Homo sapiens: one gene and its partner. The protein of the gene in region 1 interacts with the protein of each later gene in a biochemical or structural test. Each region holds a gene or a part of one and is shown on either strand. Other genes may lie near its edges.

Evidence for each region. The genes of interacting proteins can lie anywhere in the genome.
Region 2: the proteins of EIF2A (region 1) and BZW2 form a complex in vitro, tested with the Homo sapiens proteins (one study listed by BioGRID).

The regions. Positions count from the first base shown.
Region 1 is NC_000003.12:150,563,767-150,572,472, reverse strand, and holds part of EIF2A (eukaryotic translation initiation factor 2A), read right to left. Parts: intron 8,175-8,706; coding exon 8,092-8,174; exon of another isoform or gene 5,367-8,091; intron 4,781-5,366; coding exon 4,707-4,780; intron 4,572-4,706; coding exon 4,427-4,571; intron 4,298-4,426; coding exon 4,181-4,297; intron 516-4,180; coding exon 1-515. UniProt on the Homo sapiens protein: Functions in the early steps of protein synthesis of a small number of specific mRNAs. Acts by directing the binding of methionyl-tRNAi to 40S ribosomal subunits.
Region 2 is NC_000007.14:16,697,460-16,706,165, reverse strand, and holds part of BZW2 (eIF5-mimic protein 1), read right to left. Parts: intron 8,119-8,706; coding exon 7,980-8,118; intron 1,620-7,979; coding exon 1,497-1,619; intron 107-1,496; coding exon 78-106; 3' UTR 1-77. UniProt on the Homo sapiens protein: Translation initiation regulator which represses non-AUG initiated translation and repeat-associated non-AUG (RAN) initiated translation by acting as a competitive inhibitor of eukaryotic translation initiation factor 5 (EIF5) function.

The sequences.
Region 1 (8,706 bases):
AACTTTAGGTTCCTCATTGGGTACTTCACTTGGAACTGCTTGGTAAGTTATTGTTTTTGCTGGAAATATTCCATCCAAAAATGGCTGCCAAGAAACCTGCCATAATTCTGCATTTGATGGCACATCATACTTGTGCAAGATAGAGCCAGTATAATGCCAAATTTTGTATCCATTATTAACCCGTAACCTGGGAGCACATGTAGCTGTTAAAATATGCTCACCATCCGGGCACCAAGCAAAATATGTAGAATCAGAAGCCACCGGTTTAGAAATAAGTTTGTAGTTTTTCACATCCCACACTTCCATTTGTCCCCTCAGATTTCCAAATCCAGCTAATACTAATATATGTCCATGAGGGCTATAGTAGGCTGCATTACGAGGACCAGTTCCAAAGTCAAATACAGGATCACATTTCAAGTTGAAAATTGTCGCTTTGGCAGGCATAAAACCATATACAGCACAAAACTCAGTAGAACTAGAATTCCAAACTACATCATAAATGGGGCCATTTTTTGCTAGAAAAAGAATATAAAGCCCAAATTAGCAATAAAGAACTATATAAATATTTGTTAGCAAAAGTTACCATCATATAGTACTCACAAACACATCAAACAGATAAAAAAATTTCAAGGAATGTTAACATTAAAATACTCTTACATTATATACTAGGGGGATTAATGTATAATCATAAATTTATTTAAGAACCCCTATTGAATCTTAATTTCTTTTAAACATTTTGGTAATATGGCCTTATAGTAATAGTTTGTTACTATTAATAAATTTGTTTTTGGAAGGGGTAATACGTGCAGATGGTAATCAAAATACAAACTAATTTATTTATTTATTTGTTTATTTATTTATTTATAGAAATGGGATCTTACTTTGTGGCCCAGGCTGGAGTGCAGTGGCATGATCACAGCTTACTGCTGCCTCGACTTCCTGGGCTAAAGGGATCCTCCTGCCTTGGCATTCCAAAGTGCTAGGATTATAGGCATGAGCCACTGGGCCCTATATTTTTAAAAATGCCACATAAGACCAGGTGCGATGGCTCACGCCTGTAATCCCAGGACTTTGGGAGGCCAAGGTGGGCAGATCACCTGAGGTCAGGAGTTTGAGACCAGCCTGGCCAACATGATGAAACCCCACCTCTACTAAAACTAGAAAAATTAGTTGGGCACAGTGGCATGCACCTGTAATCCCAGCTACTCAGGAGGCTGAGGCAGGAGAAGCGCTTGAACCTGGGAGGCAGAGGTTGCAGTGAGCCAAGATCGTGCCACTGCACTCCAGCCTCGGTGACAAAGCGAGACTCCATCTCAAAAAAAAAGCCACAAACACAGGTCATTTTACACAAAGGCAACCCTCTGTTATATTTCTTGGATATCCTTTCAGAATTTTTTTTTGTTTTTGAGATGGAGTTTCACTCTTGTTGCCCGGTCTGGAGTTTAGTGGCACGGTCTCGGCTCAATGCAACCTCTGCCTCCCAGGTTCAAACAAGTCTCCTGCCTCAGCCTCCTGAGTAGCTGGGATTACAGGCATGAGCCACCACGCCGGGCTAATTTTGTATTTTTAGTAGAGATGGGGTTTCGCCATGTTGGTCAGGCTGGTTTTGAACTCCTAACGTCAGGTGATCCACCTGCCTCAGCCTCCCAAAGTGCTGGGATTGATTACAGGCATGAGCCACCGTGCCCAGCCTCTGTCAGCAGTTTTTGATGATGCAGGCTTCCCCCTCACTATCCTTCAACTATACTGTGTAGTTTCATATTTTTATCTTCATCAGCCTACTAAGTGAAAATGTCTATCTTGTTTTCATTTGTATTTTTTAAATTATAAGTTAAGCATCTTTTACTGTAAGTAATTTTATTTCTTTTTCTATGGGCTGATTTTTTTTCTTCTTCTTTTTTTTTTTAAAGAGATGGTCTCATTTTGTCACCAAGACTGCAGTACAGCCGTAGGATCTTAGCTTGCTGCAGCCTCAAATTTCTCGGCTCATACAATCCTCCCACCTCAGCCTCCTAGATAGTTGGGATTATATGCATGAGCCACTGCACCGGCTCTGAGGACTAATTTTTACTATCCTATGCCTATTTTATTTTTCTCCAATTATTGGTCTTTTACTTGGCTTACTTGATATATTAAGAAAATTTGACCTTCCTCATACTTATCACTTGACTATTTAAAAAACATATTTTCCCCAACTTTTTGTTCATTTTGCTTAATTTATGGACTCTTTTCTTCTCTCATTGTAATAATCCATTATTCTTCTCTAGTCAAATTCATTATTTTTTCCCCTTAGTACTTCTATCTTGTTTAAAAAGTCTTTTTCTACTCTTAAGATTAGAAAAAAAATTCTCCCATATATTCTTCTAATTCCTCTGCAGTCTTATGTATAAGTTTTTGACCCAACCAGAATTTATTTTGTGAAGAAGATAATAACCTTTTGTTTCGAATGGCTAGCCAGTTATCCCAAACCACATATTAAATGATCAATATTTTCTCCTCCATTGATTCAAATGCTGACTTTATTATATATTAATGTCTACAAAAGTATGGATCTACTTCTGGACTCTGTTCTCTTCCACTGATTTATCAGTTTTACCAGTATATCCATATACCACAACCAAACTGTCTTAATTACAATTGGCTTACTTTTTTTTTTTTTGTGACAGAGTCTCACCCTGTCAGCGGGCTGGAGTGCGGTGGCACGATCTTGGCTCATTGCAACCTCCCACTCCTGGGTTCAAGCAATTCTCATGCCTCAGCCTCCCGAGTAGCTAGGATTACAGGCATGTACCACCACACCCAACTAATTTTTGTATTTTTAGTAAAGATGGGGTTTCACCATGTTAGCCAGGATGGTCTTGATCTCCTGACCTCATGATCTGCCCGCCTCAACCTCCCAAAGTGCTGGGTACATTTTAATATCTGGTAGTGTCAGAACTCCAGATAACTTCCCCTGCCCTGCTCTTCTTTTACACAAGTTTCCAAAATATTCTTGTGTGTTCATTTTTCAACACCAACCTTACAGCCAGTTTATTTAGTTAAAAAAAAAAAATCAGTTAGCATTTAAATTTAGTTTTAGACTGACAAGAGAGAAATGACATCTTTATAAAAATAATTCTTCTTAGTAAAGGTCATAGTTTGTCTCTCTGAAGAGTTTTAAAGTTTTCTTCTCATTGGCCCTATATATTTGTTCTTATTATTTTTGCTATATATGGAATCTTTCATTTTTTTAAAGTAGCTGTTATAGTGTGACTTCATCTACATGAGCAGAGATGATTTTGTTTTCTTTCAAAACTGTATATATTTTACTTCTGCTGATTATAGTGACTAGGTATTTCAGAATGTTATTAAAATAAAGTGAAAAGGGGAGCCATCCTTGTTTTTTCTCTGACTTCAATGGAAATAGTTTTTTTAAAACATAGATTACCCTACTTACACATGTTCAATTCAAAATGAGAAAATTAGGACGCTATCAGTATTTTAAAACTATTATTTTAAAGTTTTAGTTCATTAAAACAACAGATGAAGTGGTAACATTCTTGGATATTATTATTTTGAGACAGGGTCTCGCTCTTTCACCCAGGCTGAAGTACAGTGACATGATCATAGCTCACTGCAGCCTTGAACTTCTGGGCTCAAGTGATCCTCCTGCCTCAGTCTCCTGAGGAGCTGGGACTACAGGCATACGCCACCATGCCTGGCTAACTTTTTCTATTTTTTGTAGAGGTAGGGTCTCACTATGTTGATCAGGCTGGTCTTGAACTCCTGAGTTCAAATGATCCTCCCATCTCAGACTCCCAAAATGTGTTGGAATTACTGGCACGAGCCACCATGCCTGGCCTCTTGCATATTACTAACAATTCTAAAGACAGTATTAAGCAATTTGCCGTCATAATTAGCTAAGTAAGTTCCAAAAGAGCTACTACAATGGAATTACCTTACTCAGGAAGTTCACTTCTAAAACGATGGCGTAACTCAAATAACTAATTGTATTCTGCCAAAATAAGGTATGTTGGAGGATGATTTTTAAGTTTCTTAATTAAGAAAAATTTTATCTTAAAGGTTATTAAGGCATATGAATTCTATCTTTTGATCAAGAATTTAGATTATATCATCTTTATGGCATAGTATTTTTTACTATCATTGTTTCTAATCAAAGGAAGACTGCTGGAATACTCACGTAATTGCACTACAGCACTTTCTCCATTTGTTGCAATGTAGTGTAGAGTTTGTTCTCCATAGTAGGAAGCTCCTGTCTTGTCAACATCTGTGCTAGCTATTACCAACACAGCAGTAGCTATAACAGTAAAAACTTTAATTAGATTTAAAACACAAATGGGCATTGATTCTTCTGTTATACACATAGGAATATAGCCTAAATTAACAACTGATAAACAAAGGGAGGGATAAAATATACTTAACATACCTTTTTTATTCCACAGCATTGTAACTTTATCTGCCTTAAAGAAACTTTTATTAGCTAAAGCTGCATGAGGTCCAGCAAAGTTGGGGTACTGATATAATCTAACAAATGAAGGTGCACCTTTACTTCCTGGAACATAGACAGCCACCTAAGATACATAGACATAAATCATTACTTAATTTTTTGAAGAATAAAAACTGAGATGGACATGTTTTTACAATCACAAAAAACTAGGAAAAGGTTTAAACACATAATATTACACATAAACAAAAACAGCAATTACCTTGTATGGTTGGGGTCCAGGTGATAATACAAAATCATTAATTTTTTGCAAATGCAATTTATTTGCAATTGTGTCTAAAAAAAAGAGTAAATTAAATCAGATTGATGAGAGAACCTAAAAGGAACATGTTAAACTCTGAATACATTATCAAAGATCACTATAACTACACACCAATACTACTCACTGTAGTCTCCTCCTGGTGAGATACAGTAACACAGTGGAAAAAGCATGGGGTAGGAGCAAGACAAATGTAGGCTTCAATTTCTACTCAGTCATTTACTTGCAGTGTGAGCTTAGGCAAGTAATGGGATTATACCACCCAACTCTCAGTAATTGGTTTTAAGAGAAGAGTGCCAGGCACATGGTAGGTATTTGATAAATGTCAGTTATCCTCTCTTCAATCGCTGAAATAAAGTGGTCTTAGAGCCTATTAGAAGGAAAAGATCAACCTTGGCCTGCTACTGCAGAATGTGGATATGGAAATTCTGTAACTTAATGTGATAAACAGATGCATGATAATGATGATCACAACCACAGTAACAATGGCTGATATTAAGAGCTTACTCTATTCCAGGCAGTCTGAGCCATGCTATTATTAATAAAACTGCCACTCTAGTTAATTAGATCAAGAGCTAATATACTTTCTTTGTTCAATTTCAGAGATCAATGGCTTTTCAAAAGCAGCACACCAAACTGTCAAAGTGGTGATCCCTCTTCATTTGACATGCTCACAAAGAGGAGAATAAGACAAGAAAGCAAGCTAACCCAGAAACAGTGAGGTGACAGTGCGCCTCAAACACAGGAAAATAAAATGCATAACTATACTGATTGGATGCTGCTCAAAATCAGCCTACATGCCATCTTTGGTACGTGTGAACAAAGTTACCAATTCCTATTCTAACTATGATATACTCAAAACTGTACAATCAGTAATGGGATGCTCTAAAGACAAAAGAACTGCAAACCCTTTTTAAAAAATTATTTTCAGTAACAGTGTTACTTTTTGGTATTAAGATTGTAAGAATACCTTGTGGATAATGTGGAACAAACCAAATGAATACTTATGTGAATGTGATATTCTCAAATTATCATCCCTGGTATTCCAGAGTAACAAGATTCTTGGTGGTGACAGAAGGCAATACAAATAAGATAGAAGTTAAATAAAAACCTTGTAGTCTTCAATTTAAATAAAACTATACGTATAAAACTTTAATTTAAATAAAATTATGATTGTTACATCTTTTAAATAGAAAAAAAAGGCCTAGAAACAATGATCAATGCAACAGCAAATAAGAATCTCTAGAACCTAAATACCTTTTTTTTTGCTAGACTCAGCCAATTTTTCAAGAAACCCTATTACCTTTTAATGTTTCCTTCAATGAGATCAAGAGCTAATACTTTTTCTTTGTTCAATTTCAGAGATCAATAGCTATTCAAAAGTAGCACACCAAAAAGGCGACAGGGTTTCCTGAAAAATTAGCCAGTTCTAGGTGTAATGGTTAGAAATGTACAAATTAATCCTAGAATGACTTGTCTTACCATATAGCAAAGAAGTCACTAAGGATTAATTGATCAAAGATGAGACAATTTGAGCATCAATAAGAAAAATAACTACAATGGACTGAAACACATACCTTTTAAATCCACAGCTCATTAAGAATGGGACTAAAAAGGCCAGGCGTGGTGGCTCACGCCTGTAATGCCAGCACTTTGGGAGGGTGAGGCAGGTGGATCACCTGAGGTCGGGAGCTCGAGACCAGCCTGACCAACATGGCGAAACCCCATCTCTACTAAAAATACAAAATTGGCCGGGCATGTTGGCACATGCCTGTAATCTCAGCTACTCAGGAGGCTGAGGCAGGAGAATCGCTTGAACCTGGGAGGCAGAGGTTGCGGTAAGCCGAGATCGCACCATTGCACTCCAGCCCGGGCAACAACAGCGAAACTCCATCTCAAAAAAAAAAAAAAAAAAAAAAAAGAATGGAACTAAAAAACAGCCTGGGCAACATAATGAGATCCTGTCTCTACAAATAATCAAAAATTAGCCGGGCATGGTGGTGCAAGCCTGTAGTCCCAGCTACTTGGGAGGCTGAGGCAGGAGAATTGCTTGAGCCCAGGAAGTCGAGATTGCAGTGAGCCATGATTGCACTCAGCTTGGACAAAAGAATGAGGCCCACTCTCGAAAAACAAGAATGGGGAAAAAGCTAATTGGTTACAATGAAGGTTGCTAGAGGTGGAATACATTATATTAAAACTGATAAGAGCAAGAATATTTATCCCGCCTTTTCTATATAAATGCAGCACTAGGTAACCAAATAGTAGAAGGGGAAATTTTTCTTTATAGAAGCAGTACAGCTGAAAAATAAGTGAGGGAGAAAAAACCAGAGTATCAACAATTTGCAACCACTGATGAAATAATGCATCCAGGCATGAAACATTAATGTCAGCTAAGCCTACAAAATTAAAGACAACCAGACATTATGTGCTTCTTGATAAAAGAAGTGAACATCACCTTATAATGTAGTCTTACCCTTACTCACCTAAAAAAGAACCTGAAGCTGAAACTCTAGAGCCAACTTGCAATTTATAGGGGACAGATGAACATGTTAAATTATACCATGGGATACAAAAGCAAAATTCAAACTATGGGAAAACGTGAAAGACAAATAACCTTGTTTCTTAAACAATAAATTATGAAGAATAAAATAACAGATAGAGTGGGAACTTATAGGACCAAAAGAAACATAAAAGATATATCAATCAACCACAATGTGCAGTACCTTATTTGGATCCCGAGTTTTAAAAAAAATTGTAACATTTGCAATTAGTAGAAATTTGAACACATATTTAATAATTTGTGATAATGGTTTTGTGGCTAAGTTTAAAAAATGAAAGGCCCCAATCTTCAGAAATCTACTCTGAAATATTTACAATTACATATTTAACAAGTATATAAAAGTATAACCATATCTGGGATTTGCTTTCACTTAGTAAGAGATGGTAGCTGGAGAGATGTATGGATGAGATAAGATTGGCCACAAGCTGATGGTTACTAGAACTAGGTGTCTGAAGTTTAAAATTCTACACGATAAAATATCTAAAAAATTTGTGTCACAGAATTTCAATAGCAATTAAATTCAGGAAAAGATATTCAAATGTCTTAATAGCAATTACCAGATAATAAAAAGTTATTGTAAAAGAAAACCTTTGTGTTACAGATTTTCACTGAATTCAGACTTATAAAGAATTATGCAAATGTATGTAAGAGTAATTATTGATTAATAGATTAACAGTATTTAGGAAAACCCTATGATGTCATAAAAGTTAATGGAAACTGTATACGATTACAGTAAGTAATAAAATTATGTCATAAATCTTTCCATACTAAAATTGTTGTTTTCAAAGAAGTGAACTTCATTGTTAACATTGCGGGCACAAAGAGTTTCATCTTCTGACCAGGATGGACACCTATGTCAATGAAAAAAAAAAAAAGTATAAAAAATATTCAGACAGAATGTAACATCACATTAACATGTTAAAGTAATTTATGATATTGGTTACCATTTAAGGAAAAACACTTATAAACACTTATAAATATGATATTAAGTCAGTTACTAATAGTTTTAGTCAATATATGTTAATAGAAAAGGCCAGGTGCGGTGGCTCACACCTGCAATCCCAGCACTTTGGGAGGCCAAGGCAGGTGGATCACCTGAGGTCAGGAGTTCAAGACCAGCCTGGCCAACATGGTGAAACCCCATCTCTACTAAAAATACAAAAATTAGCCAGGCATGGTGGCACGTGCCTGTAGTCCCAGCTACTTGGGAGGCTGAGGCAGGTGAAATTGCTTGAACCTAGAAGGCAGAGGTTGCCGTGAGCCAAGATCAGGCCATTGCACTCCAGCCTGGGTGACAGAGCGAGACTCCCTCTCAAACAAACAAAAAAAAGAAAACATTGTTCCTTTCCACTTAATACTAAAGGAAAGAAGGATCAAGTTTTT
Region 2 (8,706 bases), on another chromosome or scaffold:
TTCTCTTCTCAAATGGTTCAGCATTCCCAATCAAAAAGTGGTGTGTGGTAACCTAGGTATTGTGCTTGTTGAGCCATTTAATTTTCCTCACCTTCCGATTCGGATTCTAGGAGAGAAGAAAGAAGTGAGATATTTCCTCCCAGATTCCTCTAATTAAGGTCAAAAGTTACTACAGTCACCAACCCAGAACCCTGCCATTGCACCAGCATACTTTTACCCTAGGCACCCATTATAAGGTAAAATAGTCACATGAGGGCAGATAGCAAACTCTTGCTCTTTTCTGCTTTCACGTAAATTTTGCCTGTCTAAAAATGCAACATGCATACATATACAAATACCTATAAATGAATACATTTTATATATATTAAATTTATACATATAAATTATATAAAAATTTGAATATATATAAAATTAAACAATATAACTTTTCTTCTTTGGATCACCTAAGATAAACTTTTTATTCTTTTTTTTTTTTTTTTTTGAGATGGAGTCTCACTCTGTTGCCCAGCCTGGAGTGCAGTGCTGTGATCTTGGCTCACTGCAACCTCCGCCTCCTGTGTTCATGCCATTCTCCTGCCTCAGCCTCCCGAGTAGCTGTGACTACAGGTGCCCACCACCATGCCCGGCTAATTTTTTATATTTTTAGTAGAGACACGGTTTCACTGTGTTAGGCAAGATGGTCTCGATCTCCCGACCTCATGATCTGCCCGCCTTGGCCTCCCAAAGTGCTGGGATTACAGGCGTGAGCCACCGTGCCTGGCCTGAACTTTTTATTCTTAATTGAATTCACTTTATTTATTTATTTATCGAGATGGAGTCTTGCTCTGTCATCCAGGCTGGCGTGCAGTGGCGCAATCTTGGCTCACTGCAACCTCTGCCTCCTGGTTCAAGTGGTTCTCCTGCCTCACCCTCCCGAGTACCTGGGACTACAGGCGTGAGCCACCATACCTGGCTAATTTTTTTGTGTTTTTAATAGAGACAGGGTTTCACTATGTTGGCCAGCCTGCTCTCAAACTCCTGACCTCAGGTGATCCACCCACCTCTGCTTCCCAAAGTGCTGGGATTACAGGTGTGAGCCACCACACCTGGCCTGAATTCACTCTTACTCATTATTATCCTTCCACTTTATATTTCCATTATTTAAAATTGCCAGTTAATTGGTAAAGGTGTCATAAAAATCTATAGAATTCCATAATGCGTGATTAAGCTAAATGTATTTTTCTCCTTTCACATCTACTAATCATTTCTTCCTTATTGTCCTCCATCAGAGTGGATAATTTAAGCATTTCATTTCTTTCTTTGTTTTTACATGTAGAGATTTTTATTGCCGTGATTTCAGAAAGGAAAGCTAAGATGTTGGCAAAATGTTTGATACGAAAGATAACTCTAGAATTTTAGTTTTAGAAAATCAAGTAAAATCTGTGGAAGAGGTAAATATTTTGACATATAATGAGACAGTGTTTAAAGGTCATCAATGTTTGTAAACAGAATCATACCTTCTTCTGCATTTTGTAACCACTCAACAAATTTCTTCATCTGGTCAAGAAAAACACTTTTGCCTTTAGCAACATGTGCTTCCTTATACCATTTCAGTATTGCTTCTTCGCTCAGAACATCAGCTGCAATTTTAAATCAAAGATTTCAAAGTTACTATACAAATGTCATGTTTCAAAACAACTTCATGTATTACAGTTTAATAGAAAGCAATCATTTTAAATATAAAGCATTCTGTTACTTATCAGAAGAGAGGAACCAAGTTGATTTTCATGTAGCATAGTGCCATATTTTGATAGCTTACTAAAGGCTTAAGTACTGATGATGATGATATACATCTTCTTAGGCATGATATAATGCAAGCCTATAGCTCACTACTAGGACTTGGAAATCTCTCACAGTGCTAATTTGCTGGTAGGAAATAGAATTGTTTTGTAATTTTGCAAATGAACCAGCAATTCCAGCATTTTAGAACATTTTGGGTCCTGCCAAGTTCAACCATATCTTGATTAAAGAGTAACCTCAAATGACCAGTGTCTTTTAAGGAGATTGGGATTTTCTTTTTTTAGGAGAAAAATGACAAAGGAAAAAAATGTAGATAGTATGCAATAATGATGTTAGCAATTAGATATAAAGAGGAACTTCTGGGCTATGTTGTGGGAGTAATACACACCTAAACTGAAGTTCTACACTTTCTCCATCACTAAATCACGACTTATTTTCCCACAGTATATCCCAAATTACAAGAGTAATATTTTTCCTCTACTACATTAAGACAAAATAGACATATTAGCTAATTTCCTACAGGTTTCTAAAAACAACAAAAAATGTTAACTATCTTTTGTCTAAAACTCTAAATTCCACAAATGTGCCTTGATATTCTCAACATAACATTAATTGAGAGTATTTAATGTTAAGAATAGGAAGGAGAATATAAAAATAAGTGTACATAGTCTCCCAATGTTCTAATGGGTTGTTCTAACATTCTTCTAATGTTCCAATGTTCTAATGGGTTGTTGTTTGGGAATCTGTAGTGGGAAACGAGACAGAAAACAGGTACAAAGCATTTATTATTGTCCCCGAGATGTGCTCAATTCATTACAAATACTGATAAAGCCATATAATGTTAATAAATTACTTTAATGATATCTTTTCAGTTAAAATATAATTTCAACTTATGAAAATGACAGAAACAATTTAATATTGTTTTCATTTAAAACATCACTGGTAGTTTCATAACAAAAACATTGGCTTTTTTTATTTTTAAAGAATTATTGGCTCTTGGAAAATGTTCTTGAATTAAATTGAAGAGGCTGAGCTGACTAAAATGAACATGATTTGTTTATGAAAATAAAAGGTTTTTTAAAAAAACATGTTTATTATCATCACTAAAAACATTACATTTTGCAAAGGAAGCAAGAAGTCTGGATTTACTTATAGAGCCTGGATGTAAGAGCTACAATCAGGGGTCCTGTAGACTTATTCTTAGCTTCTAGTTATTTTAGCTCTTTGTTTCCAGCTCTCCACTGAGATAAAAGAAATTTCTACCAGCCATCAGAGCCTAATTGTCATAGAGCTGAGGAGCAGGCAGTTGTGTCCCGAGGAAGTGACCTGTTATTGTGTAAGACTGCCTTGCAGAGACTTTTAAAGAACATTAACAGGGATTTTAAAAGACCCTTTTATATAACTTGTAAATTATCTTTAAGATGCTTATGATTAGATCAGTAATTATCAAACTGTTTGGATCATGTCTTCCTGCCTGTAGGATAATTTTGAGCATATACACCCAACATATGTATATTTTTGAGTTTATAAATTATATTCATGCACTATTAAACTATCATTATTAATGTTCTGCACAAACAATATAATTTTAAACTGTGACAAACATGGAAAGGAGAATTGTTTTTTTTCTCCACACCTTAATGAATTGAGGATGATACAAAGTACAGGTTGGAAAGCTGATGTAGACTGCAGTTTAGTGATACTATTTGTCTGAGCTTTCCTTTTGAAGGTTGAGAGCACATTCCTGTGTTTTATTGCCTCACAGAGGCTGAAGGAGACCATGCAACTACTAAAATGCTTGTCAATGTCAGTGCTTGTGAAAAGCACACTAAATGATAGGTAAAACCTATCAAATGCATTGTTTATTGCAAATCTTGTGCCTTGATATTCTTAAGTTACCATTAATTGAGAATATTTAATGTTAAGAATAGGAAGGAGAATTTAAAATAAGTCTACATATTAACGGCGCAATGTGGAGTTCTTAGAAGAACCCAGGGTAGTAACAACTACTTGCTGAAAGATCAAACTTCTAGTACCAGAGAATTATTAATTAAAAGCTACTGAAGTATCTACACAGAGCACCATATGAGGCAAAGTATGAACATCGAAGAGTTTAAGAAGAAATTAAACTTCTATTTAGTGAAAGGAAAGGTCTGAAAAGGAAGGAACTCCTTGAGGGACAAAGAATTCAGACAATTTTTTCCCTCACTAAGGATAAAGTAGGGAAAAGAGTTAATTAAAACTGAGAAACCATTTTTGGTGGGATATTTCATAAATGCCTATTAGGAATATAGAATAACAGTAAAAGACAGTAAGAAAGGAAGACATTGTATGATGGCACATAGAGACTGGAATATATGTTTTCCCCTTCTATCTGGCCAACTTCTTCATAATGTCTGGTGAGATACATGTACCTTGAGAGCCTTCACTTCTCCCCCTCCAAATTACCTTTAACAAGTTAGGTGCCCTCCCTCTGTGGTCCTATCCCTTCTGACACCCTCTGTGTGAGGCTTATTTCAGCAATTGACATGGTGAGTGTAATTCTTTGTTTTCTTCTACATCCTGAAATTCAGGAAGTCAGGGACTATATTTTGTTCATCTCATTTCCAGCATTTAATGAAAGACCTGCCCTATAGTATCGATTCAACACACGTTTAAGGAATAAATTTGTTAACTTGATGAGAAAAAATAAATATTTCTCAATTTGTAGAGTTCTAATGTATTCATGAGGATCGAAGAGACAATACTGTAAAAGTGGCTTGAGAACTGCTAAATTTTAGATCATGTTAGTTATTTAGAAACTTAGTCTGAAACTATGTCACTTGAAACTCTTGAAATTCAGAAATTTTTTTATTAGGAATGTCACATAGGGACACAAGTCAAAAATAATTTACCCTAAGAATGCTGGGAATATATGCTGAGAAGGGCACTCACCCTTTTTTAGAACTAGAATAAAAAACTCCTTTTAGAAAAATTTGCATGCAGGATAGAATTTAACCTAAAAAATTTCTGCAAACAAGAAAACCCATGATAGAGATAATAACAGTACTTGACAAGGTAGTTTTACACATTTTAGACCATGCTGAGTCTATGGGACTTATCTTCAGGGAAAAAAGAAGAGAAAATTATTTTTAAAAGTCAATAATGTGATGCTTGAAAGTTAGCAATGGATTTACTGTTTCTTACTACCTTAAAAATATGCAAATCTAGATTTTAATACAGAGAGTCTTTGCAAAATGACCCATCACCACTTTTTTCTTTGCTGACTAGCATTATTTAGTTTATTTGCTTTTATTCCACTGTTATTTATGTAAAAGATTTATAAATCTTTCAATAATGATATTCAATTAAGTAATTAGATTTGCCAAGGGGGACATGGCTAATCATATGCCCAAGTTTCTGCTATCATCAAGTTCTGGACATGTTGGGAAAGGGGAGGTGTGTGTGTGTCCATGTATATGTTTGTGTGTGCTCTGTGTGTCAGAGAGAGATAAAAATGAAAATTAAAATGGAGCAACGGTTTCCATTACATTTTAAAAACTTGTTTTAGAGCACTACGTTCCTTATGACAAACAAAAGGAATCCACAGAAACTTGGTAAAAGAAGCAGAGAAGACACTACTCCATATGTGTAAAATGTGGGTATGTACATGAAATCAAAGGTAAGTATAATCTTGAACATGTCACTGGAGTTCATAGCATCTGTTGCTTCTTGAATGCTATACACTTTACACCAGTGGTCCTGGTACAACAGTCAGAGCATCAGCTTGGAAACTTGTTAAAATGAAAATTCTCAGGCCCAACCCTGGCCCTACTGAATCAGAATCTCTGGGGGAGCTGTGTTTTATAACAAGCTCTCTGGGTAATTCTTAGGCATATTAGGAAAGGAGTGCTTTAACACTCACTGTTTACTAAGTCTCCCTCTAGGCATATAAAACACGGAATGAGAGCATCCAAATCTTTACAGAAACAAATCAAATACATGTCTCCTGGTGCACAAGTGTTTGGTGGACAAAATAAGGTGAAAGTAAAAATCTGGCAAAAAAGAGACAAGATGGTAAACATAGTTAACACAGTAACGCTCTTAACGGTGGTATGGAACAATCATTCCTCAGGGATTGCATGTTCTCCAGAGAAAACATGGAATCATTTCACTTAAGAAAACAGACTATATATATCATTCTGTGGAAAATTACAAAATTACCTAGAAAATGGTATTGAAAATGTTAGTTCAGTGATGTGTTTTAGGTTTACATTTTTAAAAAAGTTTCCCAATTTCATTTCCAAAAATAACTAAGGCAGAAATAAAATTGATGTTGACACTCACCCTTCCTGTGTTCCCTGGGGCCAGGTCATACTTGCCACAGACCTCACTAACTTTAGGTTATTTAAACGCTGATTACCTAGTTAATCAATGAGCCTAAGAGCTCATGCCTCTTCTTTTTACTTCCTAGTGCTTACTTCTTGAGTTATTTTCTAATTTCAGGTCATACTGACCCTTAGCATCTGGGGCTGATGAAGAAGAAAAAACTCAAAGTAGCCAGTTTTACTACCTGTCAGTAGTTGTTATAAGAAGTCTAAGTCTAAAGGAAAAGGAGGTTGGCATTAGTGGTTAAAATGAGAAATCTGAAGGATTTTAATAGTTCATGTGCCACCTAGATGTCATTTCCCGTAACAATGGGTTTGCTGATTCTTTGTGATTTCATTACAATAATACGATAGGGTGCTCCTGAAGATGAGACTCCGACAACGATGTCTCAGTTAAAAAAAAAAATTGGTGAGAAACACTGGTTGGGTTATCTTTTATATGACAAGAAAGCAAACTATGTTCAGGTAACTAACTAGTTTACGAACAGTTTGGTTTTCCGTAGTGGAAAAAATTGACCACCCTCAAAACAAATGTGAAACCTGTCCCATAGGTCTCTCTGCCAGTTTTACAAATGGAGCCAGCTGTGGCCACAGAAGGTTGGGCCCCACTTCTCGTTCTTGGCTGCTGGGTACCATCTATGAATTGGTAACATGGCTTGCAGGTTTGGTTCTGATGGGTGGATCACTTTGGGTATCATTGGGTGGGGCCTAGTTTTAGGACACTGCTATCTTATGACTAAATCCAAGAAGACCCAACTCAGGTCTGGTTGGAGAAAATACCAATTACTGAACTTCAAGTGGCAATGGGTGGCCATCATATTTTCCTCCTGACTATTATAATTGTTGCTGAATACCTCTGTGCCCTGAAAAAGTAAAATATCACCCAAACACTTGTGGACAAGATTCATTCATTTGAGGAATCTACGTGGCCAATAAAAATTCATTGTGAAATGCTATTAAGCATTTTTAAAAGAGCTATTATTTATCTAAAACCTTTATTTTCCAAATTCCCAAGATATAATTCAAAAGAGACAAATTTAGGAACACATGAAAGGGAAAATAAACATTTGGCTGGTATTATTTTAACTTTTCTGATATGATATTTATGAACATAATAACATAAAATAAACATGTTATAATGTTCAAAATGTACCACTTCTTAAGTGTTCCTTTTTCTCCCTCACAAAACTACATAAATGTAGGCCCAAAAAATAGCCTAGGACATTTCTGTATGCTGTAGGTATACAGATTGGGATCGGTTAAAACCTTTAGCATTCATATTTTAGTGCCAGTTGTCATAGCAACCTAATCCTTATAAATACAATGAAAAGACAGTAAATGTGAAAACCTAAAAATAGCCATTCCCTTGGAAAACAGGAGAATGGCTGGGCCAAGTAACTAAAATACAAAGTAAAAAGGCTAATTACTTCAGTAATTTTAAAGTCAGATTTATGGTACCTAAAAGAGTCTGAACATAATATATATACTATTTTGATAATCATTGTTATTAGAGCTAATCCTTACAATTCAAAAACAGGCTCAATTTTATATAATTACATTTTTTTTCCACCAACCCCAAGAAACAATTACCAGTTCATCTACCAATGAGAAGTGCCCAGGGGCCTAAGCAGGGTTTCCAAGGCAACGCATATATGGCGTGTATGCCTCCTCTCTCTACATGGTATGGTTGCCTCAATAAAACTTTCACAAATTAGCATCTTGCTGTCCCTCTCTAAACAGAGCCCCATGACCTCCTCTGCCTCATTGCCTGCTCTGCCTCTCAAAGAGCTTCAGCAAAACACAGAAGCACAGCAGTGGCACGTGGATGGATACCTTTATAAAAGAGAACCACAATCTTCTGAAAGGCTTTCATGAAATGGATGTTGTCGTAGCAGTATTCCTGAACCTTCTGGAGGAGGATCAGCTCTGACTGGCCTTGGGAGCTGAACACGGCCAGCAGGGGAGCATATTGCTAGAACAGAAGTGGAGAGTAAAAGCCGTCACTTGCGTGGGAGGTACAGAGCCGACACTGCTGGAACTATAACAGTAACCTGGAGGGTTGCTTAGAAAAGACTGACTTTCAGGATTGACACCTTTTATCATCATATTGTGCCCAATGGGGTGAGGGGAACAGAACAGTAGGAACAAAGCAGTATAGTCGACCTGTGAGGGAACTGGGAAGAAGATTCACATTTTTTCAATGGCAGAGCCACAGTCCAATAATACAATGGATATTCTATGAGGATATGACCTCATTTTCGAAATATCCCTTAGACATAGCAGGCCAGCAATTATCTTTAATATAGGCAGATTCTCATATTTGGTCTCTTAGTGGGTACAGGGAAGGAATCTTGATGAGCTGCTGGGATAAAAAGCATTCATTTAGAAATATCCTTGACTTTCTGACACTGAGGCATAGCCATTGTTTTTCTGAGACTTACTCAATTCAATACTTATCTCTTCCAAAGGGCCTTCCCTGATCAAAGTAACATGGACAGTTTACTCACTGCTATGTTCTCATGAACGCTGGGTGCAAACTTGGAAAAAAATTAGGAAGTAT